Homo sapiens: one gene and its partner. The protein of the gene in region 1 binds, or shares a complex with, the protein of each later gene. Each region holds a gene or a part of one and is shown in the gene's direction. Other genes may lie near its edges. The genes, in order: SPTLC2 and SPTSSA.

Evidence for each region.
Region 2: the proteins of SPTLC2 (region 1) and SPTSSA are in contact, whole or in part, in a cryo-EM structure (PDB 7K0K), measured with the Homo sapiens proteins. Residues at the interface, in NP_004854.1 of Homo sapiens: Leu73, Gly77, Val80, Leu81, Phe84, Leu87, Arg88, Leu91, Leu126, Arg129, Ile130, Tyr156, Met475, Pro476, Ala477, Lys478, Gly480, Ala481, Arg484, Glu485, Asp533, Leu534, Leu535, Gln536; in NP_612145.2 of Homo sapiens: Trp15, Tyr18, Gln19, Leu21, Leu22, Val23, Thr24, Ala25, Tyr27, Met28, Leu29, Glu30, Pro31, Trp32, Glu33, Val36, Phe37.

Annotation. Positions count from the first base shown.
Region 1 is NC_000014.9:77,505,191-77,508,637, reverse strand, and holds the end of SPTLC2 (serine palmitoyltransferase 2), read left to right. Parts: 3' UTR 1-2,641; downstream 2,642-3,447. UniProt on the Homo sapiens protein: Component of the serine palmitoyltransferase multisubunit enzyme (SPT) that catalyzes the initial and rate-limiting step in sphingolipid biosynthesis by condensing L-serine and activated acyl-CoA (most commonly palmitoyl-CoA) to form long-chain bases.
Region 2 is NC_000014.9:34,432,229-34,438,487, reverse strand, and holds the end of SPTSSA (serine palmitoyltransferase small subunit A), read left to right. Parts: intron 1-3,183; coding exon 3,184-3,287; 3' UTR 3,288-5,700; downstream 5,701-6,259. UniProt on the Homo sapiens protein: Component of the serine palmitoyltransferase multisubunit enzyme (SPT) that catalyzes the initial and rate-limiting step in sphingolipid biosynthesis by condensing L-serine and activated acyl-CoA (most commonly palmitoyl-CoA) to form long-chain bases.

The DNA of each region.
Region 1 (3,447 bases):
GGGGGATGAGTGGCTTCCATGGAGAGATTTCCTGATTTCTCAGGGAGGAAAAAAGTGATGACATTTACCACTACTTTTATGTTTTTCCCCTTTTTCCAAATTGATAAGGATTTCTGGTTCCTAGTGATCCGGGATTGGGCAACAGTGCAGAACTGCCAGTCATGCCGTAGGCCGTGAAGAAAGAATGTGAGTAACTGTTGTTTTGCAAGGATTTGTAGGGTTATGGGCAGTTGTTGTTTGAAGCATTGCTATGACCTAATTCCCAAGGTATCTTTCCTCTCTTGGTGTTCTAGGTAAGCCAATGAGCTTTAATCTCTACTTGCTATAACCGTGTGCTTAGAAAAAGAGGTGAGAGTAGTGGTTTTCCTTCAAACTGTCCACATTCATGAAGATTATGAATTGTTAGGACAGCCAGGGCAAGATAGACCCTGTCTCTACAAAAATTTTTTTCTAAATTAACCGGGCATGGTGGTGCCTGCCTGTAGTCCCACCTGTGTGGGAGAATCACTTGAGCCTGGGAGGTCAAGGCTGCAGTGAGCCATGATTGCACCCCTGCACTCCAGCCTGGGTGACAGAGTGAGACCCTGGCTCAATAAGAGGGGGAAAAAAAATTGTTAGGAGCTGGGTGCGGATGCAGCCTGCAATCCCAGCTACTTGAGAGGCTGAGGCCGGAGGATTGCTTAAACCCAAGAATTTGAGCGTAGCCTGGGCAACACAGCAAGACCCCATCTAAGAAAAAAATGTTTTTTAAATCAGCTTAGCCCAAAGGGGTTGTGAATGGGGAGGTATAAAAAGCAAAGATTATTTTTTGGCTACTAAGCCAAGAACTTACAGGGATTTTTTTTTTCAGTCCCAGAACCTACAGATACCCTGCTACTTGCTTCACGTGGATGCTCAGTGCCCAGCAGCCATCTTAATACATTAAACCAGTTTAAAAAATACCTTCCATGTGGAGAAAAACATGTCTTTTTCTCGCCTCAACTTTATCCACATGAAATATGTGCCCATGGCTGGGCGCAGTGGCTCACCTGTAATCCCAACACTTTGGGAGGCTGAAGCAGGCAGATTGCTTGAGGCCAGGAGTTCGAGAACAGTCTGGCCAACATGGCGAAACCTCATCTCTACTAAAATTACAAAAATTAGCCGGGCATGGTGGCACATGCCTGTAATCCCAGCTACGTCAGGAGGCTGAGGCACAGGAATTGCTTGAACCCAAGAGGCAGAGGATGCAATGAGCCAAGATCACACCACTGCACTCCAGCCTTGGCGACAGAGGGAGACTCTGTCTCAAAAAAAAAAAAAAAAGGTGTGCCCAGGCCCCTAGCCATTGCCATGTGCCCAGCCAGAGAGCCAAATTAGAGGGCTGGCTTCCCTATCACACAGAATAAATGCTAGTGCTAGCCAATGATCCCTTTGCTTTTAATGTATAGAAAATACTGTTGTTCCTTTTGTCATTTCCAGTGACATCTGTTTTCTAAGCAGCTCTTTTCTAGGGAGGAAACCAAAGGGGCTAGGTTAAGACCCTAATAGAAATGTTTTTTCTAATCTCTGGTGAGTCTGGAAGTGTCACATTCACAGTCCACCCTTGGGAGTGGCTTGGTGGAGCTGGGGACAAGGTTTTGTTTACTACATAGTGCACATGATAAATGGCCTTAAACTGTGATTCTTTCTGGTAGGATAAGTTATAATAAACTGACCCTAAAGAATGCAATGGCTTTTAAACTGCAGTTACTGTGTTCTTAATGAAGCAATACCCAAAGCTCTGTTCTTTTGGAGCACTTGAGGGGAGCTTGAATGAAAGGTGCAGATAAGAGCAGTACCTTGATCTTATGCTTTCTGAGTGTCCTGCCTTGTTGCCATCTGCATGGATGAGTGAATGCTTCTATGCACGAGGAGACTCAAGCCAACTCAGAGTCTGCTTTTTCCAACGCTCTTCCCAGGTTTCTTTTGCAAAGCTTGGTCATTTGGCCCAGGTCTTCCTGGAAAGTGGAGTACATGTCACTGACTAGGGTGGCGTGGTGTCTTTACCCTTAACATTAAGTCTTGTTACCTCAGTGATGTGAAGCCAATGGTTGGAATTATAAAAAGCATCCTTGCTGGTTCTTCACAGGACACTGGAACCCACCCTGTCAATTCAGCTAGCATGTCCACACAGTCTTGATGATCCCTCTCTGTAACAGGCAGCTAACATTAAGAGAAGGGGGAAAGAGAAGAAGAGAGCAATAGCTTATGGGAGAGCTGAGATCTTACTTCGTTGACCCATATTTTTCCCCTGACCAAGTTACCTGTAAACTGGAATTTGCAAGGGGATGCTGTGATGATAACCCCTTTCTATTGCTGTAATGTTCATATAACCTGGGAAACTGAGAGAAGGGGATGTGTAAATAAAAGCTTAAACATTTTAGTAATGTGTTAAAATGTCACTCTCTCTTACCCTGTTTCCCTTTTTTGCCAGATGATGATTTTTTTATTTTTATTTTGTACTTTACTGGATGACTGTGAAGCGATGAGTATTGGGTTGGGGTAGGTGTGTTGATTTTGAGAGTGCATGTTAAGAACTGAAGGGGAACTACTTGAGATGACTTAAGAAGCATCCCATGCAAATATCTTGTTTTGCCCTAATAAAATATTCAGAAAGATATATCTGCCTTTATTCATTCAACCAATACATATTGAGTGCTATCTCTCTGATGGGCAGCACACTGAGCTTTGTGGTTCCTACTTGCTAGTAAACAGATAAGCACATGAACATACATGTCATTTTACAAACTGTTAAGTGCTATGGAGGAAAAGTAAAGAGCTTGGTAAAAGTAACCAGGCCGGGCGCGGTGGCTCACGCCTATAATCCTAGCACTTCAGGTGGATCACTTGAGGTCAGGAGTTTGAAACCAGCCTGGCCAACATGGCGAAATCCCGTCTCTACTAAAAATACAAAAATTAACCAGGCATGGTGGCACGTGCCTATAATTCCAGCTATTTGGGAGGCTGAGGCACGAGAATCGCTTGAACCTGGAGGCAGAGGTTATAGTGAGCTAAGATCACACCACTGCACTCCAGCCTGGGCAATAGAGCAAGACTGTCTCAAAAAAAAAAAAAAAAGACAGTAACCATGATCTGGTTTAGACAGGGGTGAGAGAGAAAACTGAGGACGTGGAGGGTCTGAAATAAAGTACAGTTGGAGCTTGATTAAAAACTGTGTGGGGAGGTGAGGTAGTGGGGAGGTGGTAGAGGCAGACTCACTGGGCTTTGTAGATCTTGGTGAGGTCTTTCTCTTATGCAGGGGGTGGGGGTCAGACTAGTGAAAGGGCTGGGTTTTTAAAAAATTTTTTAAATTATTACCTAAAGTGGAGACAGAGTTTCACTGTGTTGCCCAGTCTCGAATTCCTGGCCTCAAGCAATCCTCCCGTCTCAGCCTCCTGACATACTGGGATGACAGGCATGAGCTGC
Region 2 (6,259 bases), about 43 Mb from region 1:
GGTCAGGTTGACAACATGAAGGTACAGAATGGACATCCCTAATCTGAAAATGAAAAGTCTGAAATGCTCGAAAATCCAAAACTTTTGAGCAACAACATGACAGTCAAAGGAAATGCCCGTTGGAGCATTTTTGATACTGGATTAGGTGTGCTCACCGGGTTAAGTATAATGCAAATATTCTAAATTTAAAAAAAAAATCTGAAATTTGAAATACTTCTCAACTCAAGCATTTAGGATGAGGGATACTCAACCTGTAGTTGTTTAAGTTATGAGGGAATATGGGGCCCAAGACAAAACGATGGGAATTCCATTTTATCATCTGGAACGTTTTCAGCCGCAAGTAACAAAATTGAGCAAGCTACTTTAAGAGTAAAGGGGATTGGCCAGCTCGGCGTGGTGGCTCACACCTGTAATCTCAGCACTTTGGGGGGCTGAGGTGGGAGGATTGCTTGTCCCCAGGAGTTCAAGACCAGCCTGAGCAACATAGGGAGACCCCATCTCTACAAAAATAATAAAGAAATCAGCTGGGCGTGGTAGTGCGTGTTTGTTGTCCCAGCTACTTGGAAGGCTGTGGTGGGAGGATTGCCTGAGCCTGGGAGGTCGAGGCTGTGGTGAACTATGATTGTGTAACTGCAGTCTAGCCTGGACAACAGAGTGAGACCTTGACTCAAAAAAAGTAAAGGGGATTTATTAGTTTAGTATGTAAAAATCCAGTGGTAGGGTGGGATTCAGGGTTTTTTGATGAGGATTCTGACTCCATTTTTCTGTGATTATTTTTGTCCTGCCACCTTCTTGAGTCAGCTTTGTTCTGAATCTTGCTTTCCTCATGGAGGTAAAGTGACTCCAGTGATTGCAAGATTCCATCAGCAAGCTGCATATTGTAGGAGAGAGCATCTATGTTCCTGAATTCCTGGCTGAAGTCCTAAGCTTTGAGCTGATTAATCAGTTTTGATGTAGGGCATTGTTACCAAGCAAAAGAGATCCCTCTAATTGGTTAAGACCAGTCAGGGGTTATCCATGAAGATGGGTTAGTCTAACCAAAAGGGCATGGCTGCTATACTAGGAGGAGAGTGGATGTTTGCAAGGAAAGCACAAAGTTCACTCTTATCTATCATCCATCATAAAGGAAAGAGCCAGTGAAAAACAGGGAAATGGTAAGAGAGATTAAAAGAGGGCCTTAGAAAATACCTGAGCCCAGAGTAGAGTTTTAAAGAGTGGAAAGGATTGTTTTGTTTTGTTTTCTGTTTGTTTTTTGAGACAGGGTCTGGCTCTGTTGCTCAGGCTGGAGTGCAGTGGTGCCCTTCCGGCTCACATCAGCCTCCAGAGTAGCTGGCACTACAGGCATAAATGGAAAGGGTTTTGAAGAAGAAGGACTAAAACAGTGTCAATTCAAACAGCCTTTGGATTTGGTGGAGACCACCAGTGATCTTAGAACAATGCCTACAGTCTGGAGGAGTAAGAATCAGATGGTGTGTTGGTGATGAACAAATATATGCCAATGATATAGAAGCAGCAAATGTATATATTTTTCTTTCTCTCTTTTTTTTTTTTTAAAGAAATTAGTAAATAGAAGGCGGCAGTTTAAGGAATAACTGGATTAAGGGCGGTTAAAAAGTAAATTGTAAAAAAAAGATTGTGAAAGACTTTCTGCTCTTGTTTGCTGGATGAAGAGAATGAGTTTATGGCTTGAGTCAGGCAGTCTTGGTTTGACCTCTGGCTCTAAAGACAGCTTCCTGTATGGCCCTGAACAAGCTACTCAGTTTTCTCAGCTTCTGATTAGTGATGAACATAATAAACATTTCATAGGAAAGCTATAAGGGTTAAGTAAGATAATGTAATTGTGGAAGAGATTTGTCAACTAACCTGTTATACAAATATTAGTTGATAGTAAGCACATTGTTTATTTAAACCCTATCTTCTCATAAAAGAATGTAAGTTATTTTAAAAATAATAGTATGTATAGCTGAAAGGTATGTAGAGTTGAGAAAGGGGAAAGGCAAGTGAAAGAGGAGAGAGAGAGAAGAATGAGAATATGAATGAATTAATAAAGCATGACTCCAGTTCAAAAACAGTTATTCCTCTTAGCATCCTATGTAACTGTGCAAAGCCAAAAGCCCTTAGATTTGACATAATTTTTGCTAGCAGTATTTTGTGTGGCCCCAGAGAGAGGCCTCTTGTTGACTTCCATATATACAGTTTCAGTTCCTTTTGTAATAAAAAGAAAGGAACATGGTACAGAAAGGTTATTGTTTAGGTTATCAAGATTACCTTTATTTGAAGTTGTTGCAAATAGTAGCAATAGTGATAATAATGTTTAATAGTGATAATAGCAGTAGCAGTTGCTGTCATCCCTAAGCTAGTGTATGATTGATTTTAGCTTTGTCTGACTCTAAAAATACTTTTAGCCACATTCTAGTCTAATTCTAAAATTCTTTGATCATACATTCTTATTAGTTAAGTTGGTAGATCTTTTATAGTAATTAAATAGAATTTTATTCCTGTATATTTATTTCTTAGGTAGAACAGTATCACATTCTATGCTTCATTTTAAGCAGTCCTGCCGGGCGCAGTGGCTCACGCCTGTAATCCCAGCACTTTGGGAGGCTGAGATGGGTGGATCTCCTGAGGTCAGGAGTTCGAGACCAGCCTGGCCAACATGGTGAAACCCTGTCTCTACTAAAAATACAAAAATTAGCTGGGTGTCATGGCGGGCACCTGTAATCCCAGCTACTCAGGAGGCTAAGACAGGAGAATCACTTGAACCCAGAAGGCAGAGGTTGCAGTGAGCCGAGATCGTGCCATTACACTCCAGCCTTGGGTAACAAGAGCAAAACTCTGTCTCAAAAAAAAAAAAAAAAAAAAAAGAGAAACAAACAAACAAAAACATTTGAAGCAGTCTGATATTTTCAACTACACAGGGAGAATAACAGTACTTACTTTATATGGTGATAGTAAAGATAGAATGAGCTAAAAACAAAATAAAACAAAACCAGCTTAGAGTGGTGCCAGGCATGGTTGTTAGTGGCTAGTATTATCATTCTTGTTGTTTTTTTTATCAGTGCTTGATATAAATGAGAAAGCACTAAGTGAATGGGTACTTCAGCATAAAAGAGTTGTTGAAGACATGTGGAGATTTAGTTTTGAATAAATTAATAATAATAAGTTTCCTTAACTACAACTCAGATTCCATGCTGGTTTCCATTGTGGGGATGGCACTATACACAGGATACGTCTTCATGCCCCAGCACATCATGGCGATATTGCACTACTTTGAAATCGTACAATGACCAAGATGCGACCAGGATCAGAGGTTCCTTGGGGAAGACCCACCCTACGAAGTTGGAATGAGACCATCAGATGTGATAAGAAACTCTTCTAGATGTCAACATAACCAACCTTATAAAGACTAAAATTCATGAGTAGAACAGGAAAATCATCCTGACTCATGTGTTGTGTTCTTTATTTTTAATTTTCAAAGAGGCTCTTGTATAGCAGTTTTTGTCTATTTTAACATTGTAGTCATTTGTACTTTGATATCAGTATTTTCTTAACCTTTGTGACTGTTTCAATATTACCCCCGTGAAAGCTTTTCTTAATGTAACTTTGAGTACATTTTAATTGCCTTCTATTTTTAAAACTCAAAATCATTAGTTGGGCTTTACTGTTCTTGCTATTGTATGGCATATACATCTGCCTGGATATATTTCTACTCTTGACCAAAGTTTTGTAAAGAACAATATAAGATTTCGGGTAGGGGTATGGGGAGGGAAGATATTTTATTGAGAACTACTTAACAAAAGATTTATCTGTAAGCTTGAACTCAGGAGTACAGTTTTAGCTATCTAGACTCTAACAGCTTTTGCTTTAAAATTATTAAAGTGTTTCTTAATGAAAAAGAAAAGATCTTGCTAAAGTTAAAATAAGGAACATTTCACCTTTTAAATATTTAATTCTTATGTGGACTTATTTCCAGAAAACTTTGGTGATAATTCTTGAGACAAAAGGTGGTTAAGTAGCATTATTATGTAATGCTTATATACCATAGAGTTTTTAATAGAAGAGAAATCCATTTCCTCCGAGGGTCACTATTAACAATGTACTTCCTTAAATTTAGTTTAATGATTGTAATGGGTGCTGCATTTGCACATTGCATTAAGTTATGATGAGACGAATTGTTGTTAAAAATTATAGCAAAAAGAAATGTAAACTTGGTTAAAATCCTTTCACTCTTTGTATTGTTTTTTTTAAGGTTTTTATTCCTTAAATGTAAAATGACTACCTAATTTTTTGATGTAAATACATTAAATTCAAAGAGAAAAAAAATCAGCTGATGTAGCAGTATATCTTTTCCTTGATGGTTAAATATTGATCTAGTATTTATATTGCTGAATTATTTTCTGTGGAGGACCAGATAAGCAGTAAGTATGTCTTATCCTATATGTTTTGCAACATAAAAATATTGCTAATTGAAAAGAATTAGGCAATTATGTGTGTTGCTGGGTTGTTTTTTTGTTTTTTTTTTTTTGAGACGGAGTCTTGCCCTGTCGCCCAGGATGGAGTGCAACAGCATGATCTCGGTTCACTGCAACCTCCATCTCCTGGGATCAAGTGATTCTCCTGCCTCAGCCTCCTGAATAGCTGGGATTACAGGCACCTGCCACCATGCCTGGCTAATTTTTTGTATCTGTAGTAGAGACGGGGTTTCACTGTGTTGGCCAGGATGGTCTCAAACTCCTGACCTCCTGATCCACCTGCCTCGGCCTCCCAAAGTGCTGGGTTTACAGGCGTGAGCCACCGCGCCCGGCCAAAATTGAGGTATTTTTTGCCCTACGTTTTAAGGACTAGACTTTTGAAGTATTTTATAGTCTAGAGGTCTCAAGTAATATATATGTGTTTAATATTTTTAGAGCCAATTGATACCACAATTAGATAGGAGTAGTGAGAATAATATGGAATTACTTGGTTTGAAGTAGTTAAAAATTGGATATGGTTATATCTGAGCTGTAGTCATATTATCTCAAGAAAAATAATACGAGGATTTAACATAAGATTTGTTCTATTAATGCCCAAATTTGGCTTTCCTCTACTATCCCCCATAGAGAACCACTAACAAGTGGATGTCTAATATTCCTCTGGTGAGTTGAAGGCAGGAGAAGTTGAGAATCATTAGTTTCAATGAGTATCCAGGTGACCTATCCTGGCCCTCTACTCAGAAACCGGCAATTTGTCTTCACTCTGAGATTCATTAAATTGCTGTTGTATAACTGATGGTTATTATGAACACTGACCTGTGAGACATATGGAAGATAAAGTTTGGTCTTACAGGAAATCTTGAGGAGAGTCAAAAGAGAAATGGGAGATGTCTCTTGAGAGGTGATCAGAGAAGTTTATGCTCACTGTCTGATGCAAATGTCTGGTCTATTTGTTAGTAAATAACAGGGAAATCATTTTCACTTTTTGTTAAAAATAAGGTATTTACAAGCATACCTTGTAGTTATTGTGGGTTCAGTTTCAGACCACTGCAATAAAGTGAATATCTCAATAAAGTGAGTCACATGAAGTTTTTTGGTTTTCCCCTGCATATAAAAGTTACATTTACACCATCCTGTAGTCTATTAAGTGTGCAGTAGCATTATGGCTAAAAAAAAAAAACACCCAATATACCTATCTTAATTAAAGAATTATTTATTGCTGAAAAAAGCTAATGATTATTTGAGCCTTCAACAAGTCATAATTTTTTGTTGGTGGAGGGTCTTGCCTTGATGTTGATGGCTGCTGACTGATCTGGGTCATGGTTGCGGAAGGTTGGGGTGGCTATGGCAATTTTTAAAAATAAGACAACAATAAAGTTTGCTGCATTGATCAACTCTTCATTCATGAAAGATTTCTCTGTAGCATGTAAGCTATTTGATAGCCTTTTACCCACAATGGAACTTCCTCCAAAATTGGAAGCAATCCTTTCAAACCCTGCTGCTGCTTTATCAACTAAGTTTATAAAATATCCTAAGTCCTTCATTGTAATTTCAACAATGTTCATAGCACCTTCACCAGGTGTATATGCCATCTCAAGAAACCACTTTCTTTGCTCATCCATAAAAGGCAAAACCTTGTCTGTTCAAGTTTTACCGTGAGATTGCAGTAATTCACTCACATCATCAGGCTCCATATGTAGTTCTCTTGCTATTTTTAGCATATCTACAGTTAACTTCCTCCACTGAAATTTTGAACCCCTCCAAGTCATCCATAAAAGTTGGAATCA